Linked DNA regions of Homo sapiens. The protein of the gene in region 3 interacts with the protein of the main gene of each other region in a pairwise test. Each region holds a gene or a part of one and is shown on either strand. Other genes may lie near its edges. The genes, in order: ZMYND19, URI1 and GTF2F2.

Region 1 (7,431 bases), on a different chromosome or scaffold from region 3:
GCCACTGTTGGGGTTAGCCCTGCGAGGATGAAGCCTGATACCAGCTCCTCTGGCGCAGACTAAAGTGGGCAGCTGGCTTTTAACCTGTCTGCCTGTGTTTTGTCGTAGACTGCACCACCCCAAACGGTGGAATGAGGCCCCCATGTGCTGAGCTGTCTTGGTCTGAAGAGGCCTGTAGTTACTTTCCACTTCACAGGAAAATGCAACAGGCTCCTGCCTGTTCTGGTTATAAGGTTACTGCACCTCACGCAGATCCCAAATGTAATGATTTGAAACATGTGGTTAACTTCCAGACCAAATACACGCTGATCGATGAGCAGGACATCCCGCTGGTGGAGAGCTACTCCTTTGAGGTAAGTAAGGATGGCTGTTCCCTCCCCTGATGCTCGTGGTCAGTGCCCAGGAGGGTCACGAGGAACGAGCTCTCTCCCCTGTGCTGCAAGAGCAGGCGGCCCCACAAGTGGACAACTGGTGCTGGCCTGTGAGCCCTGAGCCGTCAGCCCCACTTCGAGCCGTGGCCCTGCAGAACCTGGCTGTTGCTGCCACTGGAGCCCACTGTGGCCCACATGGCCTGGCGACAGTGGTCTTCCTCACTTTCACCCCAGCTGCCAGCTCCTCTTGAAAGCAAATGGAATGTTCTCATGTTTGTGATTGTGTCACGTGGACCATGTCTGTTAGCTCGAAGACCCTGCTCTTTAGAGCTAGCCACCTCTGCTGGGCCTGCCTTAGCAGTCCCTCCTGGCTGCCCAGCTGCCTCCCGTTCTCTGCTCTCATGGGGTCTTCCTGCCTCTTCCCAGCTTCCATTCCTGCCGCTGAGCTTGGCCTCCCTCACCATCCTTTATCTCTGTGCCCCACACATTCACAGTAGTGACCTCTCCAGGGGGTTCTCTATCTCACTGCACCGTGGGCTTTTTTTAAGGGTAGGAAAATGTATTTGTCTATGTCCCATTGTATTTTGCAGAGTTGTTTGTGAGTGTTTCTTGCTCGAATAGACAGAGTGGTGGTGGGCCACGCTGGCCCCTGGGAGCCATGTGCCTGTGGGAAGCTCTGCACTCCCCAGGGTCTCAGGGACAGGGCTGGCATTTGTCCCTCTGGCTTGCTTGTTTCACTTGGTTTTTCTAAGAGGGAATTGAAGTGTTGCTGAGAATTGGAGGTTTTTTAACAGCTCTTTCCCTTGTTCCTTCTCAGGCCCGAATGGAAGTGGATGCAGATGGAAATGGTGCTAAGATATTTGCCTATGCCTTTGACAAGAACCGAGGAAGGGGCTCTGGGAGACTCCTTCATGAGCTGCTGTGGTGGGTGTTTCCAAGCTGTCTCTGCCCCCCGCCACTGGGCTCCTGGGTGAGCTCCGATGGCACAGGGCGCCTGGAGCCCCCTGCCCCGCTGAAGCCCTGCCTTGCCTTCCCTGAATCTCGCAGTTATTTTTGTGTCCTTCACCACTAACCCAAAGGAACGAATGATTTGTATGTTGCACTTCAAACACCAAGTGGACTTTCTGCTGGGAGCTTGCCCAGGACCGGCAGCCTCTGGAGGGACGGTGGTTGCTCCCCTTGCTGGGTTTTGCCGAGCCCCCCCGGTGTGCATGGTAGGGACCACTCAGATGGGGAGCTGTCTCGAGGCCATCTGCTTAGGTGGTTTTGCGTTCCAGCTTTGGCTGTCTGTGCTCTGAAGTCCAGGGGCCGGGTCCTCCCTGTGTCCCTGTCCTGTTTGGGCCACAGATCAGGTGCTTGGGTTTCTCTCAGCAGCTTCCGCCTGAGGTACCCTCATCCAAAGGACCAGGGGCCCGATCAGATCACATGGCTGACATTTCTTCCTGGAAGGACTTTGGTACCTGACCAGAAATGTCTGTGAGGGTGGGAGGCAGCGATGCAGGGTTAGATGCAGGGTTTGCTGTCTGTTTCTAGGGAGCGGCACCGGGGGGGCGTGGCCCCGGGCTTCCAGGTGGTGCACCTCAACGCTGTGACCGTGGACAATCGCCTGGACAACCTGCAACTGGTGCCGTGGGGCTGGCGGCCCAAGGCTGAAGAGACCTCCAGCAAGCAGAGGTGGGTCTTCTCAGGGCCTGGCGATGCCAGCAGAGGCGCCTTTTGAGGAGGGCCACCGCCAAAGCTCTTGTTTCCAAGAGGGTCTCCTGTTCCTCCTCTGAGCCCTGATGCTTCTGTGTATTTTGGGAATTTCATTGTTTTTCCCCAAAGCGTGGAATCCTCCTTTTCTTCATGGGAGCGGGAAGGATCTTGATGGTGTGTGTTTTTGCATTGCTCCTCTTATAATTGGCTCTGGGAACCTCCCTTTAGCTGGCATGACAGTGGGGAGAAGGGCTGCCTGCTCCAGGGCAGGGCCAGCGTCGGGACTCGGTGTGAGCAGGGCTTCTGCCCCACACCCCTGGGAGGCATCAGCCTTCTCTCCTCACCTCAGGATTCCTTCCTTCTCTGCTCACCTCAGGATTCCTTCCTTCTCTCACCTCAGGATTCCTTCCTTCTCTCACCTCAGGATTCCTTCCTTCTCTCACCTCGGGATTCCTTCCTTCTCTCACCTCGGGATTCCTTCCTTCTCTCCTCACCTCGGGATTCCTTCCTTCTCTGCTCACGTCAGGATTCCTTCCTTCTCTCCTCACCTCAGGATTCCTTCCTTCTCTGCTCACCTCAGGATTCCTTCCTTCTCTGCTCACCTCAGGATTCCTTCCTTCTCTGCTCACCTCAGGATTCCTTCCTTCTCTGCTCACCTCAGGATTCCTTCCTTCTCTCCTCACCTCAGGATTCTTTTCTGTGCACACAGATGGGTCTTTTTGTTGTGTTCTTTTGCTAAACAGTTTTCCTTAAGCAAAGGTTTAAAGCGGAGAATGGTTCAGGGCTCAGCCCTCGGCCCCCGACCTGCCTGTGATCCTGAAAGCAGTGCTTTGCATGGGCTTCCCACCTGGGAGGGCGGTTCCTGCTGGCCCTAGAACCAGCCAGTCTGTGAACTTCATGGAGCCCTTGGGAAGAGCCAAGGGACCAGCAGGATAGGGGTTGGGAGCCCAGTTGAGCCAGGGAGTCCCCAGCCACACACGCTTCACTGACATGTTCCCCTGGCGCCCTGGGGCTTTTGGGCACGTCCTCAAGCCTCTGGGCAGCCTTTCCTGGTGCAGGCAGTGCGAACTGCCCTAGCAGATGGTTGTCAGCAACGCTGGTAAGGTTTAGTGTTTCGGGCTTGGTGATGGTTGGTGGCTGTGGGTAGAATCTTTGCAGTTGTCACCTCAGAGTCATGCCAGAGCCCTGGGCAGCCGAGGTGGAAACAGTGGGAGCACCTGACACACTGGTTGGTGATGTGGGGACAGTCCCCAGGCCTCCAAAATGCCACTCCCAAACTGCTGTTCCTGCCACCCTGGAGGGAGTCCTACAAATCCCCCCCCATCCCTTCCTCACTGGGCCTCTCAGGACGAAGGCAGAGCCTGAAGTGTCTTTCGTTCTTGTTGGGCTGGTGTTTTTTTTTCCCTGCTCTGTTTATTTCATTAAATTAATTAATTTTACGGATGGGTCTCACTATGTTGCCCAGGCTGTTCTTGAACTCCTGGCTTCAGGGAATCCTCTTGCCTCAGCATTTTTTTTTTTTTTTTTTTTTGAGACGGAGTCTGGCTCTGTTGCCTAGGCTGGAGTAGCGCGACCTTGGCTCGCTGTAGCTTCTGCCTGCCCAGTTCAAGCAATTCTGCCCCAGTCTTCCTAGTAGCTGGGGTTACAGGTGCCCACCACCACGCCTGGCTAATTTTTGTATTTTTAGTAGAGGTGGGATTTTGCCATGTTGGCCAGGCTGGTCTTGAACTCCTGACCTCAGGTGATCCGCCTGCCTCAGCCTCCCAAAGTGCTGGGATTACAGGCGTGAGCCACCACGCCTGGCCCCGCTTCAGCCTCTTGAGTAGCTGGGATTACGGGTGTGCACCACCACGCCCGGTCCTTGCTCTAATATTAGAGTTTTGACCTTCCTCATACTGCTTGTGAGTGAAGCCAGGCCTCTTACGATTGTTGAATGGGGTTTTTATTCTTTCGGGGATTATGTTAGTTGGAACTTTGGGTTGCAAGAAACAGAAACAAAGGTCAATTTGGCTGAAACAAAAATAGGGTACATTTTGGTATCCTGACTGAAATGTGGAGAGCCAGGGATGCTGCTGCCTCCAGCTCTGCGCCCCCACTCCCGGCTCCTCTCTGGGAGGCGGCATGGGCACTACCTAGCACTTGCGGACTGAAGCAGGCACCCTGTTCTAGTGGTGTCTGGGGAAGCCCTGGGATGAACTGTAGTTAGCTTGCTTAGAATCACTTTTCTACATGAAAAGGGAAGGGGAAGGGGAAGGCGTGCTTGGCAGGCAGAGCAGCATCTGTAGCATCTCCTCCTGCGTTGTCCCACATTGATACATGCTCAGTGTTGATGCTGGGATGGGCCCTTCCCAACTCCGCAAGTTCGCCCGCTGCTCACCACTCCACCTGGCAATGCCTTCTGTCCCTGCCATGGTGCGGGTCATTTCAGCCGGTTCTCAACAAGACTCAGGGTCCGGCCAGCCTGTGACTGAATGTTACCTTGAATCCTCTCAGCACCCTTTATAATCAGGAGAGGAGATAACTGCCGTTAAGAACAGCCGTTTGGAAAGGGGGTGTTGGGCTGATGCTCCTGGTCAGCCCATTCTCTGTGGGCACGGCAGGATGCCCATTCTCTGAGGGCACAGCAGGACGAGTTGCGCTGGGGCTGCTGCCTTACACAACCCCCTGCTACAGGAGGTGGGCCTGGGGTGGCTCAGGACTGATCAGGCTCAGCCATCTTTGGTTTGCCAACATGGGGTTTTAGAACCCAGCAGGTGTTGGGCCTCTTGTGCTGGGTCAGCACCCCAGGCCCCGAGCAGAAGTCAGAGCTGGCCAGTGTGGGCCTGACATCCTGTCTGGCTGGGTGCTGTGTGTCCGTCTGGATCCTGGTCTGTGGCCTCCTGTGATCCAGCTCTTTGTGGTGGGGTCACCCTGTCTTTGTTGACTGGCTGGGTGCTGTGCGTCCGTCTGGATCCCAGTCTGTGGCCTCCCTGTGGTCCGGCTCTTTGTGGTGGGGTCACCCTGTCTTTGTCAGGCCTGGGCTATTGCTTTGCTTTCCTGGCACTGTGTCAGCTCAGCCCCCACAAAAGGGGCCTCTTGGCAAAGGGGTGTTTTCCTGTTCTGTCTTCAGAAGCCAGCAGTGTCTGAAACTTGCCTCTGTCTGGTGGGACCTCACCAACATCTTCCCATGTCCTGATCCTTCCCCGTTTTAACCAAGTCTCCTCAGGGTCTGGCTTCGGAGAACGGGGTTGGTGGGGTGGTTTATGCAGCTTCTTTACTCCGTGATGCAGCAGGGCTGGGGCTGCCCACGCTTGCCTCTGAGCAGCCAGTGCACATGCCTTTGAGGCTCCGTTCTTGGTAGAACTCTCCCGTTGTAGGCATCTGGCCTACTCAAGCAGGAGGAGTTTTTAGACGGACGTAGGGCAGCTCCCGGTATGGAAGGGGAAGTGGACCGACGGGGCAGTAATGGGCACCTCTGCAGGTCAAGGGCAAGGAGAGGGGCCGCCTCGCTTTGCACAGGGGCCTGACCTGGGCCCTGTCTCCTGCCTACTGTGTGCCTGTCAGTCCCAGGTGCTGGGGAGAGGGTGATAGATGAGGCCATGCTTACGGGTTAGTGGGAAGATGAGACACAATATTTACTGTCAGGTGGTGAAAAGCACATGCAGCAGGGATGGGCCAAAGGAGACTCAAACTCGGGCTGGGTGTCCTGGGCAGGATGGCACTCTATGGAGTCATTGCATCGTCTGCTGTGTGCTGGCCCCGTTTGGCCAGAGTGCACTCAAGTGTCTGCTTCTTTCTTTAAGGGAGCAAAGCTTGTATTGGCTTGCAATTCAGCAGCTGCCTACAGACCCTATAGAAGAACAGTTTCCTGTCCTAAATGTGACCCGGTATTATAATGCCAACGGGGATGTAGTGGAAGAGGAGGAGAACTCTTGCACCTACTATGAGTGCCACTACCCTCCCTGCACAGTGATTGAGAAGCAGGTGGGTGTGCTGCAGTGCGGTCGCGTCCCTGGCACCTCTACCCTGTAGCCCAGCCTTGGTTTGGGATCTTGCCCTCCACCGCGGGGTCCCATTCCCCAGAGACCGCTTAGCACCTCTTGGGCTTTTCCACCAGAGTGGTCTCCCTTTGCCCTTGTGCTGGCCTGACCAGGGCCCAGGCCCTCCAGCCTTGGTACGTGGTGTTTTGCTGGGTCCGTCAGATTGTCCGTAAGACGCAGCCTTTGCCCCACACTGCGTCCCAGGCATGATGGTGAAGCCACAGGTGTTCTGTATTTCAGCTCCGGGAGTTCAACATCTGTGGGCGCTGCCAGGTGGCCCGGTACTGCGGCTCCCAGTGCCAGCAGAAGGACTGGCCTGCCCACAAGAAGCACTGTCGGGAGAGGAAGCGTCCCTTCCAGCATGAGCTTGAGCCAGAGCGATGACGGGCAGGGGAGCCACACATACTCACAGCCCCCGGGCTCTACCCTGGGCACAGCAGAGACAGACTGGTGGTTGAACCTGGAGGTGCCAAAAAAGCCAGCTGCGGGCCCAGGACAGCTGCCGTGAGACTCCCGATGTCACAGGCAGTCTGTGTGGTTACAGCGCCCCTCAGTGTTCATCTCCAGCAGAGACAACGGAGGAGGCTCCCACCAGGACGGTTCTCATTATTTATATGTTAATATGTTTGTAAACTCATGTACAGTTTTTTTTGGGGGGGAGGCAATGGGAAGGGTAGAAATTACAAATAGAATCATTTGCTGTAATCCTTAAATGGCAAACGGTCAGGCCACGTGACTAAAAACTGTCCTGTTGTCGAAGCTTCTCCCCTGGGCCGCCGGGAGCCCCGTGGAGCGCGGCCTGCACGGGAGTTGTGTCCACAAAGGCAAAGTAAAGGGGTGGAATCATCTGGCCTCTCGGACATTCTCTGCTCCGCCTCCCTCTTGTGCTGCTTAGGGTGAGGTCATTTTGAGTGGAGCCGAGTCCTTGTGGGTGAGGCAGGAGGACCCTTGTTCCTGGTGGGCCCTTCTGAGGAGCGGGTGAGCTCAGACCTTCCTGAGTCCAGCAGGGAGTATGAGTGAGACTCTGTCCTTGTCTTGCGGCAGGAGTGGTGGGGTTGCTAAGTCAGCTGCCCGCTGTTTTATGGGGAGTAGGATGCTCTCGCCCCTGACATTGGTTAGTTCTTGCCTGATTTATGCATGAAGTGGCTGGGAGCTCAGCAGTGAGCTTCTGCCCAGAAGAATCCACAGGGCATGTTCAGCAGGCCTGCTGCAGATGGTGGAGGGGGCTGGCCAGCCAGGGTGAGGTGAGGGTCTCACTTCTCCGTCCGTCTGCAGGGCTGTGGTTTCCAGGATAGCCCTCCCTCTCCTTGGGGAGCCCCAGGTGTCTGGGGCTGGTCAGCATCTTG
Region 2 (8,499 bases), on a different chromosome or scaffold from region 3:
CAACAGTATGTGAAAAATATATTGTTGGTATAGAATTATCTCCAACCCCTAAAGCCTCATGGTCGTTATCACCATCATCGTCGTCAATGTTGTCGTCGTCGTCGTCATCATCATCATCATCATCATCATCACTGTGGTAAGAACTGGAACCATTCACTGAACAGTTCAACTGACTATTCACTTGACCACTGAATGGTTCTGAACTTGCAACATCCTTATGACAAGGAGTATGAGAGTCTGTTACTTGATGCATCGCATTCACATTTGTGTTACGATCTTCCTTTTCCTCTTCAGAAGATGTCGTATCTTCTCCATTTGCAATCACAGTATCAGGCTTACTAGCAAGGAAGAAAATTAACAAGATCAAACAAACATACTAGAATTTTACATTATTTAAATTTCCAGTTAGTTTCCATGGGTAAATACTAAGATCTTGAATAAAGTATTTTTAAAACTAGAATTCTAAGTTCAAAAACAAAAAAATGTTTTGAAATAAATTAACAAAAAACAGTTCCTATGCTGCTTCTATATATTGAGGTTATTCAGACATAAGTAGAATATAGAAGATAATTTTTTTATCTTTGCAAGAAAGATATTGGCCATATGCAATATAAATATAGTATCAATAATAATAAAGTTGTAAGAAATTCAGAGAACATTTATCTCTAAAGACCAGAAATTGAAACCACATAATACACACTTATTTTCTACTCCTATACTCAGAATATTTTACAATGAGCATGTATTATTGTAATTTTTAAAAATAAAGGATTTATACATATGCACACGAATATATCTATATGCATGAGTGAACATTTATCATACTTGATTCTATAAAAGATGTGAGGACCTTACAAAAATAACAAAATTGAAAATGCAACAGAACTGAAATAACATCATACAAAAAATAGAAAGAGAATCATGACCAAGAAAAATCACAAGATCCAAAACTGGTTTTAAAAAATGAATAGTATTAGTTAATCAAAAAGACCTAAGAATTTATAGGTGAAACACTAGGAAAAAGAAACTTTTATGCTTCCTGCCCTATTTTTCACAGAAACTAATTATTGCATATGGTACATCATTTAAGCAAAATAATATAGAACTTCTCGAGTAGCAGATTTCATTTAGCATTTTAACAATTCTAAGTGTGTGCTAATGTGTATTTCAAACAGCAATTTCGTAAAGTTTCTCATACATATAGCTATCTGACCAGATTACAAATTACCTGCTCCAAAGTTTATAAAAGGAAAGCAAGAATAAACATTTTACTGTATCAAATTTAAATTCAAAGTGTATTTTTGTTTTTCACAACACATTCAAAGATAGAGCACTATCCTGGGTGTGGCATAAAAATACTTCATTTAAAATTTAACATTATATATATTAAATCCATGATTATTAAAAGTCAACTATCTGGTATAATTAATTATATAAAATAGGCCATAATAAAAAATGAAGATGTTGATCTTAAGTATTTAAGTACATGTACATGCATGGGAATATGCACAAACACACAATCCTATAAGAAAATATTCCAGAGAATTAATGTTCATCTTGAGGTGAAAGGATTATTGATAATATATTATGCTTCCCTGCATTTTCTTCAATGAACACATATTATTTTATTAATGAAGAAAAAGATTAATGAGGAAATGTGTATAGAAACAAATTATCTTGGAAAGATAATTTGTCATCAAGTACCTATCAAGTTCACCCAGCAATTCTTCCTGTCTCTCTAGTTCTTCAAGTCGAGCCCACAGTTCTTTATCAGCTAGCAAATCCTTGGATTTCACATCATTTGCAATATCTGCTTCAAAAATATCTGAAGTTTTTGGTTTGGAATGCGGTTTATGAGCAATTCGGTGTTTTGCTATTTAGAAAAAGGAAAAGACGTGGCTGTTAATAGCCAACATAAAAAAGGCACAAACCCAGACTTAATGAGACTTTCTTTTGGGGCAAGGGAAATATTGAAACAGAGGGGTCACAATTTTTAAGCCAAACAGAACTCCAAGGATGAATGTCTCTTACAGCCTTGCTACTCAAAGTGTGGTCCATGGATCAACAGCACTGGCGTCCTTGGGGAACACTTCAGAAGTGTAAGCTCTAAGGACACCCTAGACCCACTGAATCAGAATCTGTATTTCAACAAGAGCCCCAGAGAACCTGCATACACATTCAAGGTTGTGAGAAGAGCTTCAAAAATGCATAAGAAATGGCCACAATGCACCCTGGTTATAAGGCGAAATGCAACACATAAATGATAAATTTCCATTTACCATCCTTACTCAAGGAAATCTAGTTACTACAGTAACGTGCAAAAGCCTTGTGACAGGATACTTTAAACTCCAGGGCACTGCCAAGGAATGAGTACCCTACAAGGAAACAACGGCGGCTCATCTCTGTAAAGTTCTATTATCATTTTACATATGAACATCTCTACTTTTTAAACTGCTTCATTTGTAATCTTCATGTGAGGAAAAAAGATGGGTCAAATCTGAACTCAGAGGTATCTGCTTTTCATTTTAAAAAATAGATTATTTTTTAATAAAGCAAATTAAGGCTTTATTTGCTTTATTAAAGCAAAGTAATGGGAAAGTAATGGGAAGAAGTCTAAGATGCGTCCTGTTATGAGATATGGCACTACCAGATGACCTCGAGTCCATCATATATTCAAATTTGCTGCATTGTTGCATACATCTGAAAATATCAAATTATGTTTCACAGCCTTATTCTCTGTAACTATTATTGATAAGACAGTAGTTAACAATTTTTATTTCAGACCTGTAGCGCTCATAATTTGTCACTGGTCACCACAAACAAAAATCTTGTCTTTCTGTTCAACTTTAATATACATATCCTTTATTTCACCTTCTAAAGCCACTTCCTGTTACTTGTGATGTGGCTTCTTTCAACCAGTAAGTTATCTTAAGAGTTCATCACCAAAATATGAGTGCTGAAAGTCAAAACGAATGCTCAGTACATTTGTTTAAGACACTGTACAGTCTTCTACAGTAGCAAATAATAAGCCATCTGTAATACTTTTTACAATTTCACTACCGTTAACACTTTACAACTGACGAAGGAACCATTGGCTTTACAGAAGTAAACCCAAACACATAAGCCAGCCTTGGCAAAAGAAATCTACTGGGTGGAGATGGGAACAACCTGCGCAGGGAAAGCCACTGCAGGCACCATAAGAGGAATGGCTGAAATACACCCACATTCATTCATTCTTCCAAAAACAGCTTACAAAGCTGCAGTTTTAAAAGAAGAAAAACTAGCAAAAGATATCTTAGGACTTCACCATGGTCAGAGAACAAATTAGGAGCAGATCCATGTCTAGAATATACATCTTCTGAGTTTTAGAGGTTTGGAGCACTGGAGAACTTTGGGAGAAAAAAGCCATGTAATCCCACCACTAAAACAGACCAGTCAGGAATCACATTTTTAACCAAAAGTTATTTATCCATTAATGTTTCACATAAAAAAAAATCAATGAGTAGAAAAATGTTGGCATCCTATGAATTTAAAAGTGTATTCTAAATCCCAAATATCTCACAGAAAGCCCACTGAAAATCAACAAAAATCAAAATATCTAAACAGCTACACATAAAACAATCTTACTGCTTACCTTTAAATTCGAAGTCACATTTAATTTCTTCTCGTATGTCAACAATATCACCTGCAGCCTGGTTTTTAAACAAAAAAAAAGCGTATTAACAACACAAATCTCCAGCATACTAAAATTATCCAAAGAGCAACTATTCAACCTAAGATGTCTGAAAGCATTTTAAACTTCAATTAATTTGTTCCTTGGCTGTAAGATAGCTTCATATTTCTTTGAAAATATTTTCTAAAAATATAGAAGACTAAAAACAAATACTCACATCGCTCATTTTCTGCAAATCTTCTGTGAATTCAACTCTGGATTCAAAATTTTTCATCACTTTTTTTAAGTCATCTATTGTTTTTCTTACATCTGAAACAATGAACACAACCATTATGTAAAGCATGGCATATATACGACCTGTAGGAATATTTTAACTGTAGTCCTATCACACTACAAGTATGATTTAACAGTAATGCTTTTCAAAAATCTTACACTATTTTCCTTTTAAATGGACTTTTAATAAGTTATACTGTGTATTTTTGTGCTATATATATAGCACATTACTTTGTTCGTAATAAAATGTCTAACATATTTTCTCTCTATTACAGAGTACAGAACTAGATTGTAGATGCTGCCTGGTGCTACCAGGTTTCTATAGGATAAATATCTAGTTGGATCATCACATAAAATGCAGTATTTCATAACAGTTTTGTTGCACAGGTAATTTTTGTCCAGCTGGATAATGCATAGATAACATAGATTAAGACAAGTTATTCTGTTCCTGAACAGAAAATATTCCTAAATTAGATGACTGAAAATACAACACATTTTTTACGGTATATAATCAACCATTTCCAAGTTAAACTGCATAACAACACAACACACAGCCTTTCAACATCTCCTAAATACCACCCTCTATTAACCTATTTGAGGAAAAATTTTAATTTGAGAATAGACACAAACATTTCTCTACCCAATACTGGACAAATGCAACAAGTAATTCATGTTTCTGTAATCAGAGTAGAAATCTCTGCTAAGCAGTAAATGGCACCATCTAAAAAATACATGGGGTTTCTAACTATAATTATATGCTGAACAATATCCTACTTTTCTCCAAATACAGAATTTTTATGGCCAAGCGCTGATAAAGAATAATAGACAGTGATATGATACCTCCTCCCCCAGATGCTCTGTGATTTCCTACTGTTTTACAACAGGCACTCAATCAGTAAGCAGATCAGAAGAGGATGGAGGAGAAAAGTACATAGTTCTTTCTCTACCAATGATGAATGCAGGTCTGGCAAAGGTCTAAGCAGTTAAAATATCTTTTAAAAGAATGAAAATAAGGAAGGGAGTTAAAAGTGAAATATCACCACATATGAAGGGCTTCTCGAGAGTGGCACATGTTCTCCGATACGGCTCTCATGCTATGCAATGCTATTTTAAATAAAACACAATCACTTATGCTCTAGCCATGAATGGGTTACAAAAAAAAGACTGCATTAACAAAATGAAAATTACGGTGTAAACAGTTCATAAAATCTCACAGCCCTGATGTCGCTCTAGATCATTAAATTTCTGCAACAATTAGACCTTTTCTCACGGCAGCAAATTGGACCGGTTGCCATGGCAAATCTGAGCCCTTAAGTCATATATCTTTGATTGCAGAAAGGTCAGACTCAGACAGCCTAATAACTCAAGGAGCTGTTTGACAGATTTCATCCGAGCATGGTCACATAACAGCATAAAACTATGTCGGCAGTTGTTAAAAGCAGGGGGTCAGGGAAAAGGTTAAGGTTATGGAATGTTTTTGCTTCAGTAAACTCAGTCAGATAATGTGTCTAACCAGCTTTAGATCTAAAGAACATTATTTTAGGTAGGAGGTCAAATCAATAACTTTTTTCAAGAAGACTGGAAAATATTAAAAATGGCAGGTAGGTAAGCTAAGTACATTTTTAAAAGTCTATCCACATATAAATACTGTGCAACTAAGCTAAAGGTATCAGTGAAAGCCTTGGGTTGTCAATGTGTAAAGAATTGATTGTTCACTGATGTTATAGGAGTTACTTTCAATCAACTATTGTTGACTTTAAAAAAAATTCATCATAACTCACGCATGTAAGAAAAAGTTGTGTGAATATTCCATTTAAGAAACAAAGTGTTTTGGAAATAGGGTAATTATGAAAAACTGAAATACGATTGCACAGTTCCATTTTTAAATTCAAGAAAGCTTTCTGAATCATACATTAATATAAACCACTATCACAAGGTTAAGAAATCAGATCTCAAAAGCATATACTTTATATCAGAATCTCAGAAATACCACAAACTGATAAGCACCAACACCGTCACATACACATTATATATGCAGATATATATCTCTATTAAATTATCATAAGTCCTATGTCCTAGAGCAACAAAAAATTAGATAGCTATACAGAAAATTTAAGACAAGACAAAAGAAAGCTGGGCAACCGCAAGGCAAACGAACCTGGTGCTCACAATAACATAAAATACAGCAGAATGGTAAGCACCTATTTCGATTTTGTACAAAGTAAATAACAAGTCTAAATTCGTATCTACAGGTTGTTTCAAAAGAACAACAGTTAAAAAAGCAGAATGAGAATTTAATTCCATTTCTTTCTATAACTCTGAGATTTAACATTAGAAACCATGCTATTACATTTTTCACTAAAGCTTTTGTACTCTATTCTCCAAAAATTTATTTTAAGAGGTGAAATATACATGTCACTAAAAATGGATCATTTAAACAGACTCAATCAATTTTAACGCTCCAAACATGGCTAAGTTGAAATCTAATTAAGCAAAATTTCAAACCACACTGAAATTATAGCAAATAACACTACTGAGAGAAAAAGAAATATACTTTGTGATATAGACAATATCTGTATTCATTTTAATCTCAAACATTTTAGTTACCAATTATTATAGAAAAAAGAAAACAAATTCAATGGGATCAAAGAAATAGCTGTGAAAATGTACAAAAGACAGTTCTCCACAGATACTTCCCCCCACCCCAAAAAATAAAAACTAAAATTGAAGAAAAAAATTAGTAATTTGAAGGACAGAAGATTGTTTTCAAACACAGGTTATTTTAACTAAAAATCAGAAGTTAAATTTTCTAGGATTTCAGAAGTATAGAATGAGGTATAGTTTTTATTTATTTAGCTGACAAAACCAGGCTGCAGGTTAAATGTGCAGCAAGCATAAGCTAATATTTTAAAGTCTTCACTAATTCAGAATCTTTGTCCAGAACTGGCTGAAATCCTTTGAGTTAGCTATGAAAAAGGAGACTTAAAGCAAATTAACAGTGCAAATTCCAAAGACATGTTTAAACCAAAAAAGAAAATTTAAAACCTCATAAGAACTTAAGCAGTCATTTTCACCTAAAGATAAACGATATGCCTACTCACTAAGTAAGACCAAATATTTAGAAACATTTAGTTAACAGTTTGTAGAATTGTATATATTTGAAAGGAACAGAAATGCAGATGTAATAAAAATTATTTGCAAAACACTAATAAAAGTTATGAACATCATTCGTGAAAGGAGTCTTTTTTACTTAGCCATATATTCATATGTACTGAATAGTATGAAGCCTGTAAATATGCAATTCTCTACTGAATCCTTTGTGACCACTCTATTCTCAACCTCGTTTCTTTTGTGTGCTGGAATTTTTAAATATTCTTTCGACAGCTTCAACAGGACGTGCCCCCTGGTGGAAATACTCACAAACCTCTGGACAGGATGTACTCCTTCTTAAACCAGTACAAAGGTTTGGACTTCTGCTTTAAAATAGCACATTGAATACATGTACTTAGTATTTGCCTTTCCCCTATACCTTAGGTAAAGTAACAACTAAGAAATTTTTAAAGGCATAAACCCATAAAGACAAATACATTTGAAGAGAAAATAGACAAGAAATGTCAACCAAATTTTGGAAACTGCACAACTGATAATGGACTTTGCACAACAGAAAAAAATGGAACCTAACTGTGGCTGGGAAAAGCTACTACAAGTCGATCTGGGATATCGGACCTGGAAAAGGCAATTCACTTGAGAGTATTTCCAAAAGAAGAGTGAACTTTAACCAAAGATCTAGATAAAAGTTTGAAAAGAACAGGTCCCCAAACCCTAATCTCACAAGAAAGGTTTCTCCTTTCTTGCTTAAACAAAAGATTCACAGCTTAGAGTGGTTTGTAGAGATGGTAGGGAATAGGGAAGTGGAAAGAGAATAGAAAATGTCTTAGTGAAACCAGGAGGATTAATTCCAAGTGAACATACTGAACCTTGAAACGCCCAGCCTGGTTCTCAGAACACTAGATGAAGAAGATCAGAAGACTCTTTTGTAGAATCTGCTGATACTTAAAGATTGCTCAATTTAAAAAAAATAAATAAATCAGCTTGCTACCTTAAATCCCTACAAAAAATACCTATCAGTCAACAAACCTTGCCTATGCACACAGAGCTTCCTGACAGTACTCAACGCAAGTATAAATGGTTAGCCAAGGATCACCAGACATTTGAAGAAATTCTTGAACATTAATGCTAGAGACCAAAAAAAGAGAGCAAGAGAGAAAAGAGGGAGAAGAAAAAAGAAACATGGAGGAAATGTTTAAAGATGAAAACTTTAAAAGAAAAAACAAATACTCCTTAAAAAAAGACCCTCCATCCATGAAACAAGAACAGGATGCTGTAACAAAGAAACAGCCAAAGAACAAAAAAAAAGTGCTTCCAGAAATGAAACTATGTACAGGAAAATTTTAAAGTCAATACATGATTTAAAAGAGTATGCAGAAGAAATCACTTCAAAAATTACAACAAGGACAAACAAATAGGCAACAAGAAAAGGAAATTTTCAAATT
Region 3 (8,499 bases):
ACATGGTAACTTTGTTTAGCCTTCTGAGGAACTGCTAGACTTTTTTTTTTTTTTGAGATGGAGTCTCGCTCTTACCACCCATCCTGGGGTGCAATGGCATGATCTCGGCTCACTGCAACCTCTGCCTCCCGAGTTCAAGTGATTCTCCTGCCTCAGCTTCCCAAGTAGCTGGGACTACAGGTGCCTGACACCATGCCTGGCCAATCTTTTGTATTTTTTTTAGTAGAGAAGGGATTTCGCCATGTTGGCCAGGCTGGTCTCGAGCTCCTGACCTCAGGTGATCCACCTGCCTCGGCCTCCCAAAGTGCTGGGATTACAGGCATGAGCCACCGCGCCCGGCCTAATACAGTTTAGAAGCATGTCTTTAAACAAAGTTAAAAGGTTTAGCCTAAAGAAAGTAAATTTTGTTTACCTGAAATATTCAAGCATGTGAAGCATTTGTCAGTGCTGGATAGAGGAGATGTTACTAAAGTGAGATAATTTACCAGCACACAAATATTAACGCAATAATTGCTTTTTCAAGGTTTGGATTAAGCAGTAAAGTAGGGCTGGGGGAAGGTGGAGTAGGGTTTGCACCTTGACCATTTCATCACCCATCTGTGTGCTGCTTAGAGTTTTTACAGGGAGGAATGGAGACCCTGAGTGGAAGATAGGAGGCGGGATCTAGTGGGGAAGAGGAAGTGAAACCAGGAGAAAAGAAGAAAAATGCAGAAATGGTCTGTGTTTCAGAGAAGTTTCCTAGCATCGCCTTTCCTCTAAATGAGGGAAAATGTCTGTTGCATTTTCTGTATTAGGCCATTCTTGCATTGCTCTAACAAAATACCTGAGACTGGGTAATTTATAAAGAAGAGATTTAATTGGCTCATGGTTCTGCAGGCTGTACGGGAAGTATGATGCTGGCATCTGCTCAGCTTCTGGGTAGGCCACAGGAAACTCACAGTCATGGTGGAAGCATGTCACATGGCAAAAGCAGGAGTGAGAGAGTGAGGCAGGACATGCTACACACTTTTAAACGACTAGATGGCAAGAGAACTCACTCACTATCTCGAGGATAGTACCCAGAGGGATGGTGCTAATTCATGAGAGTTCCGTCCCCATGATCCAATCACCTCTCCCCAGGCCTCACCTCCAACACTGGGGATTACATTTCAATATGATATTTTCATGAGGACACACATCCAAACTATATCACGTTTGATCACAGTTTCTTCCTAATGTGTAGTTTATATTTTAACAGAAGAATGTTTTGCCTTGAAGTCACTAACATCTTCATCAGTAAGTTTTCATTCTGTTGATATCTCTTAAAGGAGTTGCAGTCATTCACACAAAAATCATGTAAAGATGAAATGATACTTTGAAATTATCACAGAATCGATAATGCCCTTCTTGTGGTTGGATCACTTTATAAAAAGCATATAGTGCATTTTCCTTTGTCAGCTGCATTAATCAGTGCCATCATCAGTGTAAGTTTGCATATTGAATATTCAGTCTCACCATTTTGGGAAGATTTTGTGACTGGAAGACTAACAGGGTCATATTGTTAACTTACTTAAAGCATTAGTAGTTGGTGATCATCTCCCTGTCAAAGGTGTATGTTTTTAATGAACATCTACAAATTTAGATATAATTGATTTATTATTATGCTTATCACTGAAATGCATGATAAGATGAAATGCAGATTAAGTCCTCCATTTGTTTGACAGAGCAGGAGAAGAAAAGATGATATGAGAAATGGTAGGGGGTGGAGGGACGGAAGGAAGGAGCAAAAGACTAAAATAATAGGCTACTGTGCCTTATGACTATAGGTTTGTCTCAGTCTTGGGGGCCAATTAGGATGTTGATCCATGGACTTCTGGCTTTTTGCCCACCGCAGTTTTAACTTGACCCACAAATGCAAACAAACATCCTAATCACTTGACCTCTTTGATCAAGTATGTGCCTTGCCATTTCCTTCCAAGAAAGCTGTGATGTTCTATCCCTTATTTCTCTGCATTCAGACTTGCCGTAAATTCTCTCCCACACATCCTTTTGATGAAGAATTGCTGGACCTGAGCCAGTTTATTCAGATCTTGTGCTGCAGCTTGGCACATAGTCTGTAATAAGACATATCCCCAATCCTATGTGACATAAAAGTGATCTACTCAGTTCTAGAATCCTCTGTTTCAAATACAGGTGGTTAGACAAAAGATTTAATTGGAAAGTCACTCAGTGTTTAAGTAAGAGGAGGAGAACTCCTTTCTCTAGATCTCTACACAGAATTGCTGTTCAAATCGAATGATCAAATATCTATCCTCAAAGAACCTAACATCTCTATGCGGGCTGTGTTAGGTGCCCCCTTCTCAGTGGTCTCATAATACCCTGTACACATGCCTCTGTTATATTTTCTGATTACCTGCCAATTTGCCTTTTTCTTTTTCTTTTTTTTTTTTTTTTTTTTTTTTTGAGGTGGAATCTTGCTCTGTTGCCCATGCTGGAGTACAGTGGTGCGATCTCAGCTCACTACAACCTCCACCTCCTGGGTTTAAGTGATTATCCTGCCTCAGCCTCCTGAATAGCTGGGACTACAGGGGCCTGCCACCACGCCCAGCTAATTTTTGTAATTTTGGTAGAGACGAGGTTTCTCCATGTTGGCCGGCTGGTCTTGAATTCCTGACCTCAGGTGATCCACCCGCCTCAGCCTCCCAAAGTGCTGGGATTACAGGCGTGAGCCATCACACCCGGCGTAATATGCCTTTTTCTTTGCCCCCATCCTCTGCACTAATCTTAAACTGTGAACTCTGAGAGGAAGACTGAGTGTCTACCATTCCACCTGGCACATTGTAGGTGCTGGAATAAATGTTTGAGTGAATATATGAATGTTAAAAAGAGAAATAAGATTACCAAGTAATTTTCAATCCTGGTAGAACCTTTAAAACCTCTTCTTCAGTTGGCTCTGTCACCAACAATATTTTAGCACTAAAATGCAGATTTTAGTAATAAGTGACATTCAAATTCACGTAGTACAGTTTAGTCAGTAAACTTTGTTTCTCAAACTAGATCACTGCTTGAGTTCTAAAACTGAACTAGAATTTGAATGGTCTATTTTTATGGACCTTCTTAGTGATATCCCCACCACCACCCAGCAGTCCTCTTAGCTGCCTTGTTAGTCTTAAGCACGCCTTATTCACTTTGCATAAGTACACTGAGTCTCTGTGATGTGCACGCAGGCACTATAACAGGAGCATGTGGCCGGGCGCGGTGGCTCATGCCTGTAATCCTAGCGCTTTGGGAGGCCGAGGCGGGTGGATCACGAGGTCAGCAGTTCAAGACCAGCCTGGCCAACATGGAGAAACTCCGTCTCTCCTAAAAATACAAAATTAGCCAGGCGTGGTGTCACATGCCTGTAATCCCAGCTACTCGGGAGGCTGAGGCAGGCGAATCACTTGAACCCAGTAGGCAAAAGTTGCAGTGAGCCAAGATCATGCCATTGCACTCCAGCCTGGGCAACGAGAGTGAAACTCTGTTCCCACCGTCCCCCCGCCCCCCCCAAAAAAGGAGCATGTGATTTAAGAGGAGAGCAAGGCATATAAATAAAGGATTATAATATAATAAGAGCTACCATCGAAGGTTGTGCGGTGTGAAATGTAAATCTAAGGTAAGGCTGTTAGAGAAAGTTTCTCTGAGAAAGTAACATTTGAGCCTAGTCTTAAAGAATGAGGGGTCCAGATTTGAGGAAAGGAGATAAACGTTACAAGGAAGGGAAACAACATATGGGAAAAACCCAGAAGCACGCAGATGCAGAAATGGGAAGCATGCGTGAGGGGGAGTGTTGGAAGATGAGGCTAAAGGGAGAAGGCAGACCTGAGTGGATGCCTACAAAGGCGTTTGGAATTTAATGTGTAGCCCAAACGGGGAAGTCATTAGAATATTTTAGACAGAGGAAGGACATGTGCTCTTTCTGTTCTCTGTCCATGTCTTCCCTTTAGAGATTTTCCCTTCAGAGACCTTGTTTTTCCCTATCGTCACTACTACTTTCTCTGCTAATGTTTTATACCTACTTCCCTGCCAAGCTAATTTATTTGATTAGAGTAAAATGGTCTTAGGTTGCAGTTTAGAACATCCTAAAAATCAGGAAGTTTGTGTCCCCTACCCCCTGATCACAGTACATTGTGACCCTGATTGCATTTTGTTGCTTGAGAAATTGACTGACTATGGTCATCTCATTCCATTCTTATTGTTACAAGGAAAAAAGAATGACACCTTCGTTTATAAAAAGAATTCCATATGTTCTACTAGATTGCCAAAATGAGGGTGGACATGAAAACAACTGAATTTGTACACTTCAGACTTTATTAATATTTTTTGTTTAACCCTTTTTAGGATTTTCATTTTCTGGGCCTAGATTATAAATGGGCACACTAGACTTGAAGTCAGGAGAGCTTCTTTTCTATGGAGCTACTAAAATGCTCCTGGCAATTGTTCTTTTCATTTTTGACCCATTGCAGTGCATCCACAATTGTATGGTTGTTTGTGCAACATCGTCTTAGCCAGTCTCATAATAAACCATTCTTTGGAATTTTACAAAGATGTCATTCTTGGCACCTAAACAGAGAATCATTTGTGCCTAACCAATCATTTTCCATTTATGAATCCTGTTCAATTAGAAAGTAGTTTATGAACAGTGTCCTGTTTTTTAAATGTAATTTGAAATAGCAGGTGGCAGACTTGCATTTTATATTACCTAGATATCTCAAGCCTTTATGCTTACTCATTCACACGGGTCTGCTAGTGAAGCCAACTGTATAAGGTGTGGGAGGTAGGCAAGCCTCGGGGGAACCCAGGGCTCATTTGGTTCATTGCTGCCATCTGCTGGGGCTTGGCTGCTGGCATGGGAAGGCTGCCCACGAGAGAGCTGAGCCATCCTGAAGGAACCTCTGTATACTTCCAGTACTAATCAGCTATTATGTTTCTAGGTGACAACCTACCCCTAACTAAAAGGACTTTATGAACTCTAGAGCATTATATCAGTCAGTGTAAAGTGGCATTAGATTATGTTGGTAACACGTACTCTACAGCAAACATGAGGCTCAGAGAACGAAGCAACACACTAAGGACTCAAAGATCCTAGAGTATCAGAACTGGAAGAACCTTAAGCCAGATGTGGTGGAACTTTAGTATATAGTTACATGAGTCGCCTAGGCACTTGTTAAAATGCAGATTCCTGGGCCTAGCCCAAGAGACTTTGATTCAGTAGGCCCAAGCTGTGTCTCATTTAACAAGCTCCCCACAGGGTTCTGATGCAGGTGGTCTAGCACCATGCTAGAGAAAAGCACTACCTTAAATATACAGACAAGAGCTTCTCAGCCATTTTTCTTATTAATGCCTCACTTCAATCAATAAGAAAAATTACATCTTCCATCAATGGGATGAGTCATCATCATACCGTAACTAGTTCTTTGAAGCACACGCACACAAATTATTGTTGGATTGCTTTGTTCTGCAACAACAACAAAAGAGTCGCTTTTAAATAATTATCTTGGCTGGGTGCAGTGGCTCAGGCCTGTAATCCCAGCACTTTGGGAGGCCGAAGTGGGTGGATCACCTGAGGACAGGAGTTCGAGACCAGCCTGGCCAACATGGTGAAACCCCATCTCTACTAAAAATACAAAAAATTTAGCTGGGCGTGGTGGCATGCGCCTGTAATCCCAGCTACTTGGGAGGAGGCAGGAGAATCGCTTGAACCTGGGAGGCGGAGGTTGCAGAGAGCCGAGATCATGCCACTGCACTCCAGCTTGGGCAACAAGAGCAAAACTCCATCTCAAAATAATAATGATAATAATAATTAATATTATTATCTTTCCTTTCTTCTCCAAGAAGGAAATTCTGTAATTTATATTGGTCAGCTTATTGTGGAATGCTTTTTGGCCTTCAGCATTGGCAAGCAAAGGTCTAGTTTCATATTACACTTAACATAGCCATCATTTCCATGACCATAGTAATCATTTAGTAAATGTTTATTGAATTTTTAGGGACCTAAAACACCATAATATGACTCTTTTCTTTGGAGAAGCCAAACACAAGGCTGCATCCCTGATAGTTTTAGGGGATGTCTTCTTATCACTTTATTTATTTATTTGTTTTTTGAGACAGAGTTTCACTGTTGTTGCCCAGGCTAGAGTGCAATGGCACAGTCTCAGCTCACTGCAACCTCTGCCTCCTGGGTTCAAGTGATTCTCCTGCCTCAGTCTCTCTAGTAGCTGGGATTACAGGTTCCCACCACCATGCCTGGCTAATTTTTGTATTTTTAGTAGAGACGGGGTTTCACCATGTTGGCCAGGCTGGTCTCGAACTCCTGACCTTAGGTGATCTGCCCACTTCAGCCTCCCAAAGTGTTGGGATTACAGGCGTGAGCCACCAAGCCCGGCCTTATTATCACTTCTTACTCCCTTATCTGTGTTGGCAAGCTTGGCTAAAGTACAAATAGTAGTAAATACAAATAACAACTCTCCTTCTCACATAGGAAAAAATAAGTGGGTGGCCTAAAAACAAATTTGAGAACTCACCTTAGAACTGAGAATTCTGAATACCTGTCATATGCCTGCTTGATAGAATATTCTCAAAAATGTTGCTCATTTTTTTTATATGCTACTGCTCCTGAAACTACTGGTTTCAATCTGTGAACTGAGTCCCATGAGGCCACTGAACTCAAGGGCAGATTACCCTTGGTGTACCGTGTCACACTGAGTGAGGACCAGTAATTTTTTCGTGTATTTCATGTAGTGTTTTTTGTGTTTTTTTTGTTTGTTTGTTTTAGCTTTTAAGTTGTTGGCATTCAGGACTTTCAACTCCTTTAATGCACATGATCATATATTTAGTGCAGTTACCATGTCGCACATGTAGAATCAAAAGGCAGTTTATTGAACCTCCTTATAGAGAAATCTTGCTGAGCTTTTAGGATCATAATTTTTATGGCTTGCATATGTGCTTTGGCATATCATCTTATTTTAAGTTTTGTCCCCTGCATTTATAATCTCATTTGTTAGGGGTTTTGTTTTTGTTTTAGGTGTACCTGAAGGAAATCTTAAAAGAAATTGGTGTTCAGAATGTAAAAGGGATCCACAAAAACACATGGGAGCTGAAGCCAGAGTACAGACACTATCAAGGAGAAGAAAAGAGTGACTAAGAAGACTCCTAGCCAGCATGCTAGTGAAACGACTAGCAGCGATGCTATGCAAAAGGCGCTGATACTGGAAGGCTTGAACACCGTATGTTAATAGGGGTTAAGTGACAGTACTTTGATTTCTCTCGGTAAATTTTTTAAACCTGTAATTCTTGTAAAGTTTCTTAACTGTTTTTTTGAGGAGAAAGAACAGATTTATTTATAGACTTAACTTGTATTAAACCAGATTATTCACAGTAGGAATAGGGGTTGGAGGATTAAGAGGGTTTTTCTTAAATATTAGCTTTTAATGTGTACAATTAGGAAATTTTTTTAAGTGAGGACTCTCTACCCTTGCCGTATCTAAGGAGCTGAGGTAATACAGATCCAAGGAGAATTGTATAGCAAGAAAAAAACAGTCAACTACAGAAACTCTTAAAAGGAATAAAAACCCAAAGTTCCTTATTTTGAAATTGTCAAAGAACAAAGCGGTGTTTTTCTTTTAAACAGGTGATCACGTTTCGTGTTCATACTCAACGTTAATAAAAGGAGAGAGTTTGTAGTGAAATGGCAGTGTTCATCATTGGCTTATTTTACCGTAGTGATGCTGAGATGAGAAATGTGCAGGATCATGGTCAGTTGATGTTTCTTTTATTTGCTTTTAAGATAATTAGAAATTAAATATCTTTCCAAAATTTGAAGATATGTCTCCCCCAGTCAGATTATAAGCTTCTCAAAACTGGCTTGCCCCCAGAATTTTACTGCTTACCCAGCAGACATGTATTGACCATCACATGGCAAATGATATCAGCAAATCAAAAGATGGGCGTAGGGGTCCAGCCGAGACAGAAAACGTTAGTTTCAATTCCTGGGGCATTAAAATGTTGCTTTTCTCTTTCTCTTTAATTAATTTTTAAATGAAAACAATACATGTATATGTTAGTTTTTTCTAGCACAACACAATATTATATATTAAGCGATCCAAAATCATACTGTCAAGACCATCAAACAAAACAAAGAAGCTTAAGTGAACTAAGCACAGGGAAAAGTTGTTTTTTCACTCGTTCATTTTGTCATCTGCTTCTAGATGCTGCAATCAAGAAGTAGCAAATGCCCAAGTTGCCATAGTGTTTGCAGGAAAAAAAGAGAAAAAATAATAAAAATAAGGAAGGAGCAATGCCAAAAATTGAAGAAAATATTATATAATTAAAGCAAGAAGATATCTATCCATTGAGAAAAACAATTTTTATATTATTTGCTTTTAGCAGCAAAGCATTAGAATTCTGAGATTGTTATAGCACTAAGAAGATTTTTATTCTGTGTACACACTGAAAAATAAAATTCTGAGTAAAGAAAGTGTT

What was found.
Region 1: the proteins of GTF2F2 (region 3) and ZMYND19 interact in binary tests that used the Homo sapiens proteins (3 or more experiments, as listed by UniProt).
Region 2: the proteins of GTF2F2 (region 3) and URI1 interact in binary tests that used the Homo sapiens proteins (3 or more experiments, as listed by UniProt).

The regions. Positions count from the first base shown.
Region 1 is NC_000009.12:137,581,581-137,589,011, reverse strand, and holds the end of ZMYND19 (zinc finger MYND domain-containing protein 19), read left to right. Parts: intron 1-293; coding exon 294-353; intron 354-1,188; coding exon 1,189-1,295; intron 1,296-1,904; coding exon 1,905-2,045; intron 2,046-5,848; coding exon 5,849-6,029; intron 6,030-6,325; coding exon 6,326-6,469; 3' UTR 6,470-6,931; downstream 6,932-7,431. UniProt on the Homo sapiens protein: May be involved as a regulatory molecule in GPR24/MCH-R1 signaling.
Region 2 is NC_000019.10:30,000,844-30,009,342, reverse strand, and holds part of URI1 (unconventional prefoldin RPB5 interactor 1), read right to left. Parts: intron 3,983-8,499; coding exon 3,891-3,982; intron 3,693-3,890; coding exon 3,635-3,692; intron 1,874-3,634; coding exon 1,705-1,873; intron 339-1,704; coding exon 1-338. UniProt on the Homo sapiens protein: Involved in gene transcription regulation. Acts as a transcriptional repressor in concert with the corepressor UXT to regulate androgen receptor (AR) transcription.
Region 3 is NC_000013.11:45,276,400-45,284,898, forward strand, and holds the end of GTF2F2 (general transcription factor IIF subunit 2), read left to right. Parts: intron 1-7,042; coding exon 7,043-7,162; 3' UTR 7,163-8,494; downstream 8,495-8,499. UniProt on the Homo sapiens protein: TFIIF is a general transcription initiation factor that binds to RNA polymerase II and helps to recruit it to the initiation complex in collaboration with TFIIB.